Regions from separate parts of the Homo sapiens genome. Here region 2 is linked to region 1. Evidence: fine-mapped expression QTL. Tissue or cell type: whole blood. Region 1 holds a variant in brackets; the other region holds the start of a gene. All regions are shown on one strand. Distances are from middle to middle.

The links.
Region 2: it holds the start of CHSY1, and the variant in region 1 is fine-mapped to the expression of CHSY1 in whole blood (TOPMed, PIP above 0.99).

The regions. Positions count from the first base shown.
Region 1 is chr15:101,203,952-101,212,282 of GRCh38, forward strand. All of the region lies in intron 2 of CHSY1 (chondroitin sulfate synthase 1), which reads right to left. Among named protein-coding and RNA genes, the nearest start is that of CHSY1, 44 kb to the right of the region's middle. RefSeq lists a silencer at 1,778-1,943. The variant C/T (reference allele first, on the strand shown) is at 4,071.
Region 2 is chr15:101,247,924-101,256,254 of GRCh38, forward strand. It overlaps CHSY1 (chondroitin sulfate synthase 1), which reads right to left and starts at 4,125. Exons shown (of 3, transcript NM_014918.5): 1 at 3,214-4,125. The coding sequence starts at 3,533. It overlaps LOC107984727 (a long non-coding RNA gene), which reads right to left and starts at 8,011. Exons shown (of 2, transcript XR_001751746.2): 1 at 7,663-8,011; 2 at 7,437-7,557. RefSeq lists silencers at 3,110-3,539, 3,730-4,039, 4,210-4,589.

The DNA.
Region 1 (8,331 bases):
TACTGGGACAACTGACAGAATATGACTAAACTCTGTAGATTACATAACTGTGCTGTATCAACGTTAATTTCCCTGATTTTGATTACTGCGTTGTGTTTATGTCAATGAATGACCTTGTTCTTAGGAAATACATACTGATTTAAGGGCAAAAAGAGCATTATATCTGCAACTTCCAAATGGTTCAGAAAAAACTAATGTAGGCCGGGCACAGTGGCTCACACCTGTAAATCCCAGCATTTTAGGAGGCCGAGGTGGGTGGATCAGCTGAGGTCAGGAGTTCGAGACTAGCCTGGCCAATATGGCGAAACCCCATCTCTACTAAAAATACAAAAATTAGCTGGGCGTGGTGGCGTGCACCTGTAATCCCAGCTACTCGGGAGGGTGAGGCAGGAGAATCACTTGAACCCGGGAGATGGAGGGTGCAGTGAGTCGAGATCGTGCCATTGCACTCTAGACTGGGCAGTAAGAGCGAAACTCCATCTCAAATAATAATAATAATAATAATAATAATAATAATAATGTACACTTATAGAGAAAATGATAAAGCTGATGTGGTAAATATTAATAATCAGGGAATTTGGGTGAAAGACTTATAGGAGTTTTCTATTAAGTTAAATTTTTTCAAAATAAAAATTGCCCCCCAAAAAACAGTGGTTAAAAATGACCATCCAGCTGGGCATGGTGGCTCACACCTGTAATCCCAGCACTTTGGGAGGCCAAGGTAGGCAGATCACTTGAGGACAGGGGTTCAAGACCAGCCTGACTGACATAATGAAACCCCATTTCTACTAAAACTACAAAAAATTAGCTGGGGATGGTGGCACACACCTATAATCCCAGCTGTTCAGGAGGCTGAGGCACAAGAATTGCTTGAACCCAGGAGCCGAAAGTTGCAGTGAGCCAAGGTCACACCACAGCATTCCAGCCTGGGCACTAGAACGAGACTCCATCCCCCCGCCACACACACAAAAAAGACCATCTGGCAGAGTTAAGAATACTGTCACTTGGCGAAGATCATAGTAACTAATTTTTCGCAATACTACATACTCTATCCACCAGCAAATCATGAAAGTATGGCTAACAGATTTCTAAACAGCTCTTTAACTACTCAGAGAGATTTTCAGAAGCATAAAGCAAGAAGTTTTTCCTCTGTAATCTATTTTTATTAAGCTTAAAGTTCTAATATTTTATCTTTTTTTTTCTTTTTTTAAAGTAATCAACATGGCAATACCTCATATGCTTGAGGTTTCCTGGACAAAACCCTATTACTATTTCTGTCTCTAATTCATCCTTTTTGCCTGCTGTGCTGTGGGCATGACATCAATTTATTATAACCAATAATTTCCAGTGCCTCCCAGTCACTAAATTGCCACCACACACACATGATTCAGAGGAAAGAAACTAGAACCAGCATACTCTTCAGTTGTTTAAGAAAAAGCCTGGTCTTTATATTTCCCCATTTATATAAACAAGCTAGTAATCAATTGACATAGACTCCACAATGTTTCCTGATAACTAGAGAAAACACACAGGTCTACCAGATGTTTATAGCTACTTGTGAAAAGACACATACCCAAACCTGAAGAGTACTGTGATCACAAAACTGAGCTTGATTTTTCTACTAACGACTATTAGTATTAGCAGCCTGACATTTAAACACACAAACCCATACATGCTTATTCTGCTCTAAGTGAAGAATTTTAATTTTGAAGATTGTTGGCCGGGCGTGGTGGCTCACACCTGTAATCCCAGTACTTTGGGAGGCTGAGGTGGGTGGATCACGAGATCAGGAGATCGAGACCATCCTGGATAAAACGGTGAAACCCCGTCTCTACTAAAAATACAAAAAATTAGCTGGGCGTGGTGGTGGGCGCCCGTAGTCCCAGCTACTCAGGGGGGCTGAGGCAGGAGAATGGCGTGAACCCAGGAGGCGGAGCTTGCAGTGAGCCGAGATAGCGCCACTACACTCCAGCCTGGGCGAAAGAGAGAGACTCCGTCTCAAAAAAAAAAAAAGAAGATTGTTTATTAATTTGCTCTACCCCATGATCCTGGTATGGTAGTGTTTTCTATTTCAAGTTCCTATAGACAGTAATACGCTCCATCACTAAGGCAGCAGGATTCCAGGACATTTGATTTTTGATATATGCTTCATAACGTTTGCAATACTAAATGAGAAGTTTAATTTCAAACTCCAATCTCTGTCTGCTCTCCTTTCTCTCCCCGGGTGAGCCTCTGAGGCGAGAGGTTTGATTCAGGAGATAAGACTAGGGCTGCACAGGCATGGTGTGCCTCGTGCGCCACGGAGTGAAACTAGACAGACAAGGGAAAACCCACCAGGTCTCGAGTCGGCAGGAGAACCAACGACCAGGTATTTGTTTCTAAAGACTCATATGATCCACTGAAGAGAACCACTGAGTCAGAGGCAGGGGTGGAGGTCGCAGTGAGGGAGGACATGGCACACTACCCACAGGCAGGGGTAGCAGCTCCCACTGTGGGGTTAGTCATCAGCTGGGGCTCTGAAGGCGGTGACGTGCTAAGTGACAGATCACCACCAAGATCCGTTTCCCATGAAAACACTTTGGAAAGAAGCTTTTATGTGGGCTCACTTTATACAAATAACACTTCAGAAAATAAACGAACACTCATTAAATTATGCACCAAAAGAAAGTAAACTGTGGAAGCTAGAAGAGACAGCAGTGTTAGATATTAATTAATAGGCTACAGAGAAGAAGAAATACATTTATCATCTGTGAGAAAACATGTAGGTTTGTCATTTTATTTTCCCTACACAGAAGCAGCCATAATGGCAGAGAGAGTGAACAAATATTCCCAGGGTTTTGGGGCACAGCCTAAAATAGTCCTCCAAAAAATACCAAATTTCTTTTCTCATTTTTAATCATAAAAATTCACACTAATTTGCAATGATACTCTAGGACACCCATGTTTATCTCATAAAAAAAGTCTCTCTCCCAGACCTCAGGTAAAATTAATGTTCTAGGAACGTATGCCACGCATTTCCACTGGCTATCCAGTACCACTCTCGCGTGTCAGCACATTCCAAAATTAGTTTAATTTAAAAGAAACAAGACCAAACAAAACAAAGCCAAAAGGAAACAAACAAAACCTAAAAGGGGAAAAATCCTACTAAGATAACTGAAACAAATATTGTCTAATATATTTCTCAGAAAGGGTCTACTCTTGACAAATGTTTTTTATATTAACACAGCATTTGCAGTCAAAAGAAAAATAAGCCACTCACTATCCAAAATGGGAATAAAAGTCTTTTCTTCTATACCTCATTTTTGGAAATAAAAAGTCTTTGGCTGAAAGCAAAGGAAAGAGTTACGTCCACATAACCCTTCAGAATGGGAAGAATCAGCGTCACCAAGTCTTCACTTCGCCAACTAACAACAGTATTTTAAAAATTGTTCATTCTGATTTTTAGAACCAACTCATGATGCTGGCTATCTGTGAACAACAATACCTTCTAGTATGTTATATAATATTTCATTTCAATGTTAACAGGATATTTTTCTTAAATTTCCAGGTGCCTCTCTCATATGCTCTGTATCTGTTAATTCATCAAACACTCAAGTGCCTCATATGTTAACCTCTAAATGGAATACAGAAATAATTAAGACAAGACCCAATCTACTAGAAAAAAAAAGTTGAATATTTGGCACAAATAAACACTCAAAGAAAATAGATCTTCCAGAATATACTATCCAAGCAAATATTCAGTCTTGCTAAATTTACCAACAGGTTTTTAAAATCCTCTGAGAATGAGGGCTGCGTTGCCATGTGACACAGGTAGTACCTGGAATCTAGTAACTAAAATTGAAAAGCTTATTTCAAGATGGAGTTAGGCTTCTTGCCCCTGCCCCACCCGTTGTCCTGAAGTAAAAAGCCACTAGTGGGGTCAAGCAAGATAGGGTCCCCAGATGGGGTGAGGGTGGGCTGGTGCAGTGGCCCAGCCTTGGGGCGTCAGGTAGGCCGCCAACCCTTGAGTTGAGTCACATAGGGAAGGCACCGGGAAGGAGGCATTGCAACAGAGGATTGCTCACTTACAG[C/T]GGAAACTGATGCAGTAAGTAAATGTGGCTGAGGCCAATGAGCAGCTAGATTTCTCAACTGTCAAATAAAGCAATTACAAATACAGAAAGGGAGAGAAGAGGAAGAACCCTTTGGGGTTGAAATGGGATTTGGAGTATCAGGGGGAACCCAAGGACACACACACACATGCACATTTTCCCCTGGTCAGCCCACTGCTCAGGAGTGGGCCAGCCAACACCCACAGCAACGAGCACACCCACAGTCTAGATCTTGGCTTCTAAATGTTTTCCACTAAAAAGAACCAGAGACTCTTCGAGAGATGGCAGACTGCAAGGCTAGGGCAGGGAAAAAATAACAGCCTGAAACATCTTAGTATGCCAGAAAGAAATTGCTCAAACAGTTATAGGGGCATATCAAAAAGATACAGAAGGCCAGTCATGGTGCCTCATGCCTGGAATCCCAGCACTTTGGGAACCCAAGGCGGGTGGATCATTTGAGGTCAGGAGTTCGAGACCAGCCTGACCAACATGGTGAAACCCCGTCTCTACTAAAAATACAAAAATTAGCCAGGTATGGTGGCGGACGCCTGTAATACCAACTACTCGGGAGGTAGAGGCATGAGAATTGCTTGAACCCAGGAGGCGGAGGTTGCAGTGAACCGAGATCGTGCCACTGCACTCCAGCCTGGGTGACAGAGCAAGGCTCCATCTCAAAAAAAAAAAAAAAAGAGATACAGAAGCCTGCAACAAACAGCAGCCACTGGACACGTCTAAGGTGATGTAAACATGGAAATGTATAATAATGGTAAGAGATTATAACTCATTAAATAAAATAGGAATACAAGAGTGTATACTCATACAAGCACACACATAAGTAAATGGGAAAAGGAACAAGCTTTTCCTTACTTTCAACTAATAAAAGTAGAAAGAATAACTGGATTAGAAAATCACCATTTAGCAACCATCACACTATTCATTTATTCTGCCAAGAAACATCAATTAATGCTAAAACTATTGGGGGTGGGAGTTTGATGAGGAACAGGATATTTACAGTCTCTCCACAATGACACTCACTAAATATAAAAAGACAGAGAGTAACTTTACAGTGGAGAAACCTGGCCAGGTTTTCCTAATCACTCTACCTTAGTTAAATGACCAAAGTTAATACTACCAATAACAGAGCAAACCAAAATCACAAACTGTTAGGATACAAAGAGAACACAGCAACGCTTCTGTAGTATCTGCACACTTGAACCTAATCATGAGAAAATAAATGCAAACTGATAAACATTCCACTGGTCTGTAAGCTCCAGAAGTGTCAAGGTCATAAAAATCAAGAAAAGGATGGAGACCTGTTTCAGACTGAAAGTGACTAAGGACATAATGCCAGTGTTCGTAAAATGCCATCCGTTTTAATAAAACTTCAACTTATACATAGACTTACGTAAGAAGAATAAAGCGATATATACCTGTATGCCGTGAAGCTTTTTGTTTTAAGGAAAAAGGGTTAAGTAAAAACCTTTATCACTGAGCTTCAGAGACTGGAAATTGTGATATGAATTCAATATTCCATGGGAAAAAAAAACCTGCTAAACAAAAATAACAAATAGCAGGATCAGTTGCTATGCAACAATAAGAAATGTTTGCATGAAGTCAGCAGAGGAGGAGAAAGGGCAGTAAAAATGAATCTTTCTATATTTTCTATGTTTAATTCTCAGGGCAGGTTATAAATAGTGAATCAGAAACTGTTCCAACAGACAGGTATTTTCTTAGAAGATACATAGTGGCATTCTTCAGTTTCTTAGTGTGGAAGATGTGAGGACAACACTATAAGCTAAAAAGAAATCTACTGGCATGTGACTGATCTGTACTGAATGACAACTGAAATGGCAAGTTCAACACAGAAAGTATACAAAAAGTATACAAGTGCCTTAAATTTTGTAATGAAGACTCTTTGAGGTTACTACAAGTTAGTGTCGTTAAAATACTGAGTAAGTTTCTTAAAGCACTTGTCTTCAACTCTTAGTCCGTTATTTCTCTTCCTGCCTACTGATTAACCTTGGTAAAACTTTCTGAATGTTTCTAGGAAAAAGCATGGAAAAGAAAAAAACAAAGTTCAAAAACAAGATCTGTAACCTTGGAATATGATTTGATTATAATCACTCACTAAACAGATTAGCCAGTACCTTTTATTGTCAGATTTTAAAAATACTTGGCCACAGGGAGTTAGTAAGGCCTATTATAGCCACAATTCTGCATAATGTGCAAAGCAAAAGTGCTTAGCAGAAAAAGAGGCTGAAGGCACCATCACACCTTAAACATAAACCTCTTAAGACTTTATCTTCCTGTCATTGCAAAAACCCTACATTTAATAGAAAAACTAATCCCCATTTAAACAACGTCTAGAAGAGATACAGAGACACTAGATGGATACTGGAAAAGTAATGCTTTGAATCTCAAATCCTATTTTCTTGAGTTTTAAAATTACAAATAGTTTTTTTTAGTCAAAGAAAACTAGAATCTAAGTTGTGATTTTAAAGAAATCATAATCAAGAAGACTGCGAAATGGAGGAAAGTGGAGGGAGAAAAGGAGAACTGCATCTTAAGAGCAGGGGTGGGCCAGAAATAGACCAAGTCTTAGAAAAATGAAGCAGCTGATTCAAAACTCAGCTCAATATCTGATTGGATTAAGGTTACGTGGTCCAACCTTAACTGTCTGCCAGAAGCAAAATTATATCCTCACTGGAGGACAGTAATCATATCCAAAGACATTCCAGTTTTTTTTAAATACAATGTTTGTGATTCAGTCAAAAGCTACTAAACATGCCAGCTGTTTAAGACCAAGTGACTGAAAACCAAGAAAAACAGACAAGAGAAACCTATACTTGTCAGATATGGGCTTTGAAATAATGTGATTAATATGTCCAGGAAACAGATGATAAGATGTAGAAGTTTAGCAGACAATATTAAACTATTAAAAATATCAAATGAAATAACTAAAATTAAAATACACAGCTAAAAGTTAAAATGCAATAGGTTTAGGCTGGGCACAGTGGCTCAGGCCTGTAATCCCAGCACTTGGGGAGGCTGAGGAGGGTGGATCACCTGAGGTCAGGAGTTCATGACCAGCCTGGCCAACATGATAAAGCCCTGTCTCTACTAAAAATACAAAAATTAGCCGGGCGTGGTGGCAGGCACCTCTAATCCCAGCTACCTGGGAGGCTGAGGCAGAAAAATCACTTGAACCTGGGAGATGGAGGTTGCAGTGAGCTGAGATTGCACCACTGCACTCCAGCCTGTGCGAAAGAGCGAGACTTAGTCTCAAAAAACAAACAAAGCACAATAGGTGTGATGGCAGATTAGATACAACTGAAGAGATATTAGTATAATGAAAGGTGTGTCAGACGGAAAAAATCCAGAGATCTTAGAGTGAAAAAGAATACTGAAAATAACATAAAACACGTATAGGACTCAGTGAAAATGTGTAATATATATGTAACTAGAGACCCAGAAACAGATGCAAAAATGGGACAGAAGCAATATTTATAAAAATAATGGCTGAGAAATTTCTAATACTGACGAAAGATGTAAACCCACAGATTTAAGAAGTTCAGTGAATCACAGCTGAATAAATACAAAGACAGTATAACTGGGCACATCATAATAGGACTACTCAAAATCAAAGAGAAAAAAAATTTCTATTATTTGACTATCAAGGGAGAAATAATCCTAAATACAGAGAAAAGATAAAATACCTTCAAAGAAAAAACAATACGACTTGAGAGGTGATTTCATCAGAAAATAACTGAAATCAGAAGGCAATGGAATGATATCTTCCAAGCGCTCAAGAATAGTAAGACGAACAAACAAACAAAAAACCCCTGCCAATCTGGAATTCTATACCTAGAAAATATATCATCCAAAAAAAAAAAAAAAGTAGGTGGCTTAAAGACAGGAGAACAACTTCAAGACTTGGGGTAGGCAAAAGTCATGGACAAAAGGTGTGAACAGACACTGCACAAAAGACAGGCACATGATCAATAAGCACATGGAAAGGCACTCAGTATCACTAGTCATAGGGAAAACGCAAACTGAAATCACAATGAAGTAAATGCACTACACACCCATCAGAATGTCTAAAACCATAAAAGACTGAGAATGCCAAACAATGATGAGGACATGAAATAACCAGAACTCTCATACGGTGCTGTTGGGAGTTAATAAGATACGGCTACTTTGGGGAAAAAACACATGGCAGTTTCTTATGAAATTAAGTATATAC
Region 2 (8,331 bases), 44 kb after region 1:
GTTGCTAGCTACTAGTCCCTTCACCTAAATTCTGACATTTTCAGTATTCTACACCAAAGTATCATCTTACTGAAAGTGCTGGCATCTCCTTCATCTATAAGCCAAACAACAGTTGTTTTTTTGTTTTTTTTAAAAAACAAAACTACAGTTTTCGATAAGATGAAGAATGAATTTACCTTTCAGGAGAAATGTAAAGCTCAGCACATCGATTTCCAAACTAGAGTTCTACCTTGTGCTAGAAGAGTCAAGCTTACTTTTATACTGAACTGTGCATGGAATTTCCAATTTAAGAGCTCAGTGTGGACTTTTGGTCTGGGCTGCAAAGCACAGTAAAACTGGAATCATATGTTATACCCTATAACCTCCATCCCAATTGAGGCCCTCCCCAAAAGTTCCTTAACTTTTAGCCTTAAGGCTAAAATCGTCTTGTGCCAACTCCTGCAGTCAGTCTAAACACAGGGTTGGCAGGCAAGAGGCAAAGGACCCTAACTGGCAGGGCAGGTCCACCTCCAGGCTCCATGCACTCTGACTTCTTAAGATCTGAGAGATAAAAGGAAACTTCTGTGAGAGAGCTGGAGTGACATTAGCTGGACACTATCTCCTGGTAGGCGTTTTCCTTTCTCAGAAAGGCAGAGGTGTCAAAAGAAAGGGAGAACCCCGCCTGGGGGCAAACTGTGTTTCTGCTTTCCCCTAACCACCTGAAAAAAAAATAATAAATAAACAATGAGATTAAGTCTTACATCCAGAAAAAGATGAGGGAAGAGATGTGGAAAGGAGGCCAAAAGTAAGAGCGTTAAGCTCGAGTTTGGAAAACCATCTCCAAGTGTGAAACAGTAGTTCTAGTTTGCATTACATTTTCTTTTACTTATTTTCTTTTTTTTGAGACGGAGTCTTGCTCTGCCCCCCAGGATGGAGCGCAGTGACGCAATCTCGGGTCACAGCAACCTCTGCCTCCTGGGTTTACGCCATTCTCCTGCCTCAGCCTCCCGAGTAGCTGGGACTACAGGCACCTGCCACCAAGCCTGGCTAATTTTTTTTTTTTTTTTTTTTTTTGCATTTTCAGTAGAGATGGGGTTTCACCGTGTTAGCCAGGATGGTCTTGATCTCCTGACCTCATGATCCGCCCGCCTCGGCCTCCCAAAGTGCTGGGATGACAGGCGTGAGCCACCGCGCCCGGCCTGCATTACATTTTCTGAGTATTGCTGGTGCATTAGGCCCCCCACTGATTTGAATATATTGATACCGTAACCATGAAAATGTATTTGGTTCAGGGGGCATGGGGGAGATAAGGGAGTTACCTAATTTACTGTTTGTACTAACTGGTTTGTTAACTGTCCCCAAAACTGTGATTTCACATGGTCTATCACCACACTAGAGTCATGCGGATTTACTTTCAAAACCATGCTGTAAATAATCTATATGGCTCATCCTCGATTTCCGATACGGCTGTTTCTCTGGTCAAAAAAAAAAAAAAAATCCCATAAAACCTCAGGTAATGCAAGGTAGATCTGGGAGAGATCCTGATAGGCTGGTTCCCAAATCACTGCACTAGTCTATGTATCTCTATCTATCGATCGATAGATAGAATTTTTTTTTTTTTTTTTTTTTGAGATGGAGTCTCACTCTGTAGCCCAGGCTGGAGTGCAGTGGCATGATCTTGGCTCATTGCAACCTCCGCCTCCTGGGTTCAAGCGATTCTCCTGCCTCAGCCTCCTGAGTGGCTGGGACTACAGGTGCACGCCACCACACCCGGCTAATTTTTGTACTCTTGAGTAGAGACGGGGTTTCACCATATTGGTCAGGCTGGTGTCGAACTCCTGACCTCAGGCGATCCGCCCGCCTCGGCCTCCCAAAGTGCTAGAATTACAGGCGTGAGCCACGGCGCCCCGCCTGCATTAGTCTGTATTTACAATACCTGCATTCTAAGCTTTTCAAGCCACTCAGGACCCTTCCTGGCGGAATGTGGGTTCTGGACTTAAGCAGGACCCTAATGGAAATGTGCAGGAATGGGGATCAAGCCATTCAAGGGGCAGTCACTGAAGACCACTTTCACCTTCTTTCTCAGTCCTTTACTTTCTCCCTTAAAGGCAAGGGAGACCATATATGCTTTTCCCCTCACAACATCTAGTGCCTGAAAAATCTGACCAAGACTGCATTTAAAAACTGAAGTGTAAAGGTATTGGTTATAAGAACAAACAGCAACCAGCTTAGCCTGGCTCAGCACTGGCTGCTCTGAAATTTCATTACCAGACAACTGATGCTCTAAAACCATTCCCCACATTGGTTTGCTCTGTGGCTGGATAAGACCCAAACTTTATCCATACAGTAAGTGTCTCTATACTTCACACATATAGGGTTTCCATCAAATCCCTTTATCGAGTCTACAACCCTCTCCAACTTCAAATTCACTCCAATACAAATCTGATTCTAACCATGCCAGCCATTCCAAAATCATCTCCCTTCTAGAGACTACATTGGCTAATCCCTTTGTTAAACCTGAACACAATTCCAGCTGCTTTTATGACTCATTTGGCCAACTAGAGCCCAGTTACTGGATAACATGCATACACCACCAAGCTGAACTAATTAACACCAGAATGCAGTTTTCCACTGAATCTACCAAGGGCCAAGAACTGCTTTTCCCCAAGGTTCTCTCTCTCTGTACTCAACAGACTGGTGTGGTCCAATATGCTGCGGGCATTCTCTTTCATTTATAGGAGTGCCTCCAACTGCGAAATGTGAGAGTATGATGTGGAAAGGTTCTAGAACTAGATTAACGTACACGGGCTCCAGCTTTGCAAGGACAAAGGTGCACATTTTAGGGAATCCAGTATCAGCCCCAACTGCCTCCACTATCAGGTACTGTGCTATGAGTTTTCCAACATTATGAGGGAGACCCGATCTGTCGGGCCCTTCTAACGAGAAGCTTCGATTTGCAAAGGCTAAAGTGCCTTCATCAGGGTGAGAGGTACACCCAGCGAGGCCACACTAGTCCATCTGACCCCAAAGGCCATGTTCCTGAGCGCCGCGCTCACCATCCCGCCTCTGATCTTTTCTCCCTCGGCCCGGCGTCTCCCGAGAGGCAACCCGATCCCGCCGGAAGCCCAAGAAGGGCCTAGGAAGCGGGCGGAGGCGAGAGCCAGGAGAGCACCCGGGATGCCGGCCGCCGGGATGCCGGACGCAGGAGGCGGTGCCCGGGGAGCAGGGGCTCACCTGTAGGCGGCCACGGCCCGAGTCTGCAGGTATTTCTGGGCGGTCATGACTCCCACGAAGAGAAAGTTCCTGTCGCGCGGGCCGCCATCTGGGTCCGAGCCGGGCGGCCAGAGCTGCGCCCCGCGCGCATCGCCGCGCGCCCCGCCGGCCTGGGAAGCCGCCGCCTGCCCGGACCGGCAGCCCTCGGGGCTGGCGCGGCGCCGTGGGCCCGCTCGCTTCAGCTCGGAAGCCCGGGGCAGGACGAGCCGCGAGGCCAGCACGAAGCCCAGGACGAGCCCGAGCAGCACGCTGAGCCAGGCGCGCCGGCCGCGCGCGGCCATGCCCGCGCCGCTCCGCCCGCCGGGCCGCCGCCGCAGGCTCCGCGCGCCCTCAGCCCGCTGCCCCCGCCCGCGGAGGCCAGCCCGCCCTAGCGCCGCGAGGCCCGGCCCGGGCAGCGCCGCCGCCGCCGCGGGCCCGCCGCGCCCATCGCGGCCCCCGAGCCGCCCGCAGGCCCCGCGCCGGCGCTTTGTTCCGCACGCCCGCCCCCGCCGCCGCGGCCTGCGCCTTTAAGAGGGGACCATGCCCGGCGCGCGCTAGCGGCGGCTCGGGCGCGAGGTGGCGGCGGCTCCTCCCGCTCGCGCGCGGGGACGCGGGGCCGGCACGACGGCGACGACGGCGGCGGCAGACGAGTCCGGGCTCCCGTCCCGCCCTGCCCGCGTCCTCCGGCTGGCTGGGCTCGGTTCGCACGGCGCCTGTCCCCGTCCTCTTCGTAGCCGGCGCCGCCGCCGCAGCTGCACATCCTCCGGCTTAGCTCGCCATTGCAACAGGAGCCCCTCACGTCACGCACGGCGCGTTATGAAGTGGCCCCGCCGGCGGCGAGCCGTGGCCCCTCTCGGGATCCGTCCGCGCCGCGCGATTGGCGCAAAAGTGAATGAGGGGCGGTTCACGTGGCCGAAGTTTGACCAAAAAAAAAAAAAGCCCTCTCGGGCGCCCCGCCCGCGCGGTCTGCGACTGGAGCTGGCGGGCGGAGGGGGCGTGGGCCCCCGCCCGGCGCCCGCGGGGCCGGAGCTGCCCGTGATCCGCACCTAGCACCCGGCGCAAGGGCGTCCCCGCGAGGACGGCCGCTTCCCGCACCGCGGCGCCCGGGCGCGAATCTCGGGAGCCAGCCTTGCAGTGGGGGCTTCTCGGCCCCCAGACTCCACGCTGCGCACGTTCCTCCCGCACGGGCCGTCCTCGCTGCACCCCACGGCCACGCCCTTCCTGCCGCCGGGCCGGCCCCGCGCTCCCGGCCCCGCGCTCCCGACCACACTGCAGCTTTGTCCGCAGTCCCGCGGCCGCACGCAGGGAACAGCCGTCCCGGAGCCCTGGGGACGTGCGCGCCTGCGAGTGGACCGTGAATTCAGTTACCTTGTTCCCTGTTGCTAGTTTCTACGCTAAATAAGAAGAAGAAGAAGAAAAAGCCATCTTTAATACTTAAGGTCCACGCTTCTCATACAGTACTAGCATTTAATGGATCTCGAAGACAAGGAAAATGAAGTTAATGCCCTGGATGGTAAACCCTACTTTCATTTACATACTGTGTGGGCAGATAGCCGGCTAGTACCCCCAGCCTGGGACTTTGTCCCTACTTTAATATAGTCCGTCTGTAAAAGTGCCGTGGATTTCTAAAGACGGATTTTGGGTCCCAGATCCTCTACTCTGGATTTTAAGTTTTATACATTTCCTCTGCAATACTTCAGCTAAGGCAGCAAAAGCGGAGGTCTCCATACAACGAAAGTTTGTGTAGAGTTTCAGTCTTGTTACTTAGTCACCAGTATATTGGGGTTTTCTAATGAAACTTTTGAAGGGCAAAGTGTTTCCCTGGGCCTGAGAAGTTACCTGCATTGAATCAAATAAACACATGCCTGGGGCAATCCTTGGATCTTTCTTCATTGTTGACCAAATGGTTGAAATACTATCACACAGTTTAAAATGCCTGTGGGAGCTTCAGATACCTTCTCGGCACCTGAATGGTGGTCACTCTTGTTTATTCTTTGGATATTACCACTTTCTTTGACACTTGTGATTTATATTAAAAATAGTTCATTACCTACCTTCCCACAGAGCCCCTCCCTAAGGGGTGATCCACATCTAAAAATAAAATACTCATTATGCAGTGAATACAGGATTCCAGCAGTGGTCTTGGGAAAAATACAGAACATACAACCATGAATTACAGGCTCGAAAACCATCGAAAAAGGTTTCCACTAAGACCATAAACCACAAATGCCGAGGAGTCACCAGATCCCCCAAATTCAGCAGCCCCATCATTCACAGTGATTTACATGAAGTACGAATCTGGCCAGATTCAGATGTTCAATTTTGTAGCATATTCAACGATTTCAGTATTTTCTAACCTGCTTTAGACTTACCTAGTTTTCTTCGAAACTAGTGTCCAGTGAAAAGCTGGCCGGGCGCGGTGGCTCACGCCTGTAAACCCAGCACTCTGGGAGGCTGAGGCGGGCGGATCGCCTGAGGTCAGGAGTTCGAGACCAACCTGACCAACATGGAGAAACCCCGACTCTACTAAAAATACAAAATTAGCCGGGGGTGGTGGTGCATGCCTGTAATCCCAGCTACTCGGGAGGCTGAGGCAGGAGAATCGCTTGAACCCGGGAGGTGGAGGTTGCTGTGAGCCGAGATCGTGCCATTGCATTGCACTGCAGCCTGGGCGACAACAGCGAAACTCCGTCTCAAGGAAAAAAAAAAAAAAAGTATATAAATATCTGATGGGAATAATATTCTGAGGATGCCAAATATTTTGTCCTCCTCAATATCCTGGTTCCTAGTTGTCCCTCAGTTCCTAGGTTAACAGTCTCACCTGTCTCACCTGCAGGCTTAATGGGGGTCTTTCGTAATGTAGAAAGGATACCCTTTTCTTTGTAAAGGCTGAGCCTGAGGGCTTACAATTCCCTGGAGAAGGAGAGTAAGACATACGGGAACTCCCTCTGGGAGAAGAGGGATATGCCAGGCCAAGAGAGGGTTGGAAGGAGAAGAGAGAAACTGAGGTCCTGTAGAAGTCTGCCAGGGGCAGGGACCAATTCCGGCATGCAGCCTAGGAGCAGGAGGGCAAGCTCTAGCACATCTGGAAGGAGCAGCTGGATTGTTGAGCTGAGGCAGTTCTCCTGGGGAAGAATCCAAAAGTGTCCCAGTAAGGGGCCTGGCTCAGGAGACAAGGCTATCCTAAGTGGGGATTTCACAGCCAGTAGCAAATACCTGGAATCAAGAACTTCAGTGACAGCCAGAGACCCAAACAGCTGGACAGGACTGGTACCCCCAGTATGAAGGCCTGTCCCATGCCCAGCCCCACTAGTCAATACCAGCAAGGAGCCAGGGAGGACAACGAGGGTCTGGAACATCTGCCCCCAATGCACACACATGCGTCCTTCCCCACAGCCCCCTGGAGGCCAAGGCTGTCCTCATCCTAAAGCCCCCTCACCCTAAGTAATTTTTAAAGGTAAGGAGTAGGCAGGGTGATTCGCATTTATAGGGATTTCACTGCAGGGAGCTGAGGAAAGACTTTTCATGTTCCGGGCTTCTTGATTTCACTGTGCTACTGGCCTTCTCTGTTGAGGGAATCATTGACCATTTTTCTCATCATAAAAGAAGGGGAGGTATTAACTGTTACCAGGAACACTTGTAAGGAAGCCCTTAACTGTAGTTATTCCATGAAAGTCCCAATGGCACAGGAGTGGCCCAAGAGGTGGGCTGTGATGGATCAGGGATCAGGAGTGTGGGACCGAGTCTGAGCTCTGCGTGGAGTGAGTTCCACCTGGAGGGGCTCCGGGAGTCCGGCTCTGTCTCCAAATGAGTCTTTCTGCTGGATCACGTTAAACGGTCCTCCATAGTGATTCCAGACCAGTATTCAGAAATGTGTTCAAAAATCCCAGATCACTTAACTTCCCTTCTGTGTTCATGAGTGTGACTCTTTATGACACATTATTAAAGTTCATCGCCACCTACCTTACTGAGCATTTTCTCACAGATGGCAACTTTGTTCCCACACACTTCACATTTCTTTTCTGTTGCTAATACATTGAACGTCTGTTACCAGTATAACATTTCATATAATTTGCAGCAATTTCTTGGAAACCCTTGGTAAATACCTCAATTGTTTGTTGGCAGCAAGCCTCAAACGACCGACAGAGTTCCCTGTTAGAGCTTCTTTAAAGATGAAGCCTCTCCACTCACGCCTCAAACAGGGGTCCTTGGAAAAAGTGGTAATTTTTATTAAAGAAAAAAAACTTTCAGAAAGGCCTGTTTTAAGAAACAGTGAATGCTGAGGAGTTATAATCATCCATCCTTTCAGAAGGTTCTGTTCACTGCCTGCAAAGAAGAAAATCTATAATGACCACTTTACTAATATTGCCACTTAACCTCTGTTAACCCAATAAAACACTGCTTCATTATGAATGCTGCTATTAAACTTACAAGCAAGATCCTCATGAGGTTGTTAATTTCGCTCACTATTTCCTTCTGTTTGTAGCATTTCCAGTCAGATGCAGGAAAGGGCAAGTGAGCAGGGCTCACGTTCTGGTTTCACACACTGGCCTATTCCAGCCCTGGGTGTTCTGCAAAGTCCTTCAGTGCTTATCAGCTGTGTACACCGTTTCCATCAGACGCTGAGTCAGTGTGAGTGCTTCTCACACTGTGTGTGTGTGTGTGTGTGTGTGTGTGTGTGTGAGCTTTCATGTGTACGATAGAGACACAAAAGAGATTTAAGTTCAGTATAACCATGTGGACCAGCCAGATGGGATGTGATCTTCCTAACTAGAAAACGCTGGGTGCCGCCAGCACAGGCACTACTGGGAACCAGCCTGAATGTTCTTTAGGAGACAACCTCACTGCAGAGGCTGAGGACAGTTGGCTTCTGGTGTTAAGACTTAATCCTTGTGGAGAGGAGTTTGCCTTTCCCATCCCTTGCCAAGAAATGCATTGATCTTTAAAGCGGTGCCAGAGTTTCCACAGCTGGGAAGTTTGCACAAAGACAAAGCTCCTATCCACAGGAGGGAACTCCCTGTAGGAACCCAGGCACTGGACAGCTGGGCAGCAGCATGGCCACCTGAGGGCTCAGTGCAGCTGGGGCCAGATGTGCAGCTC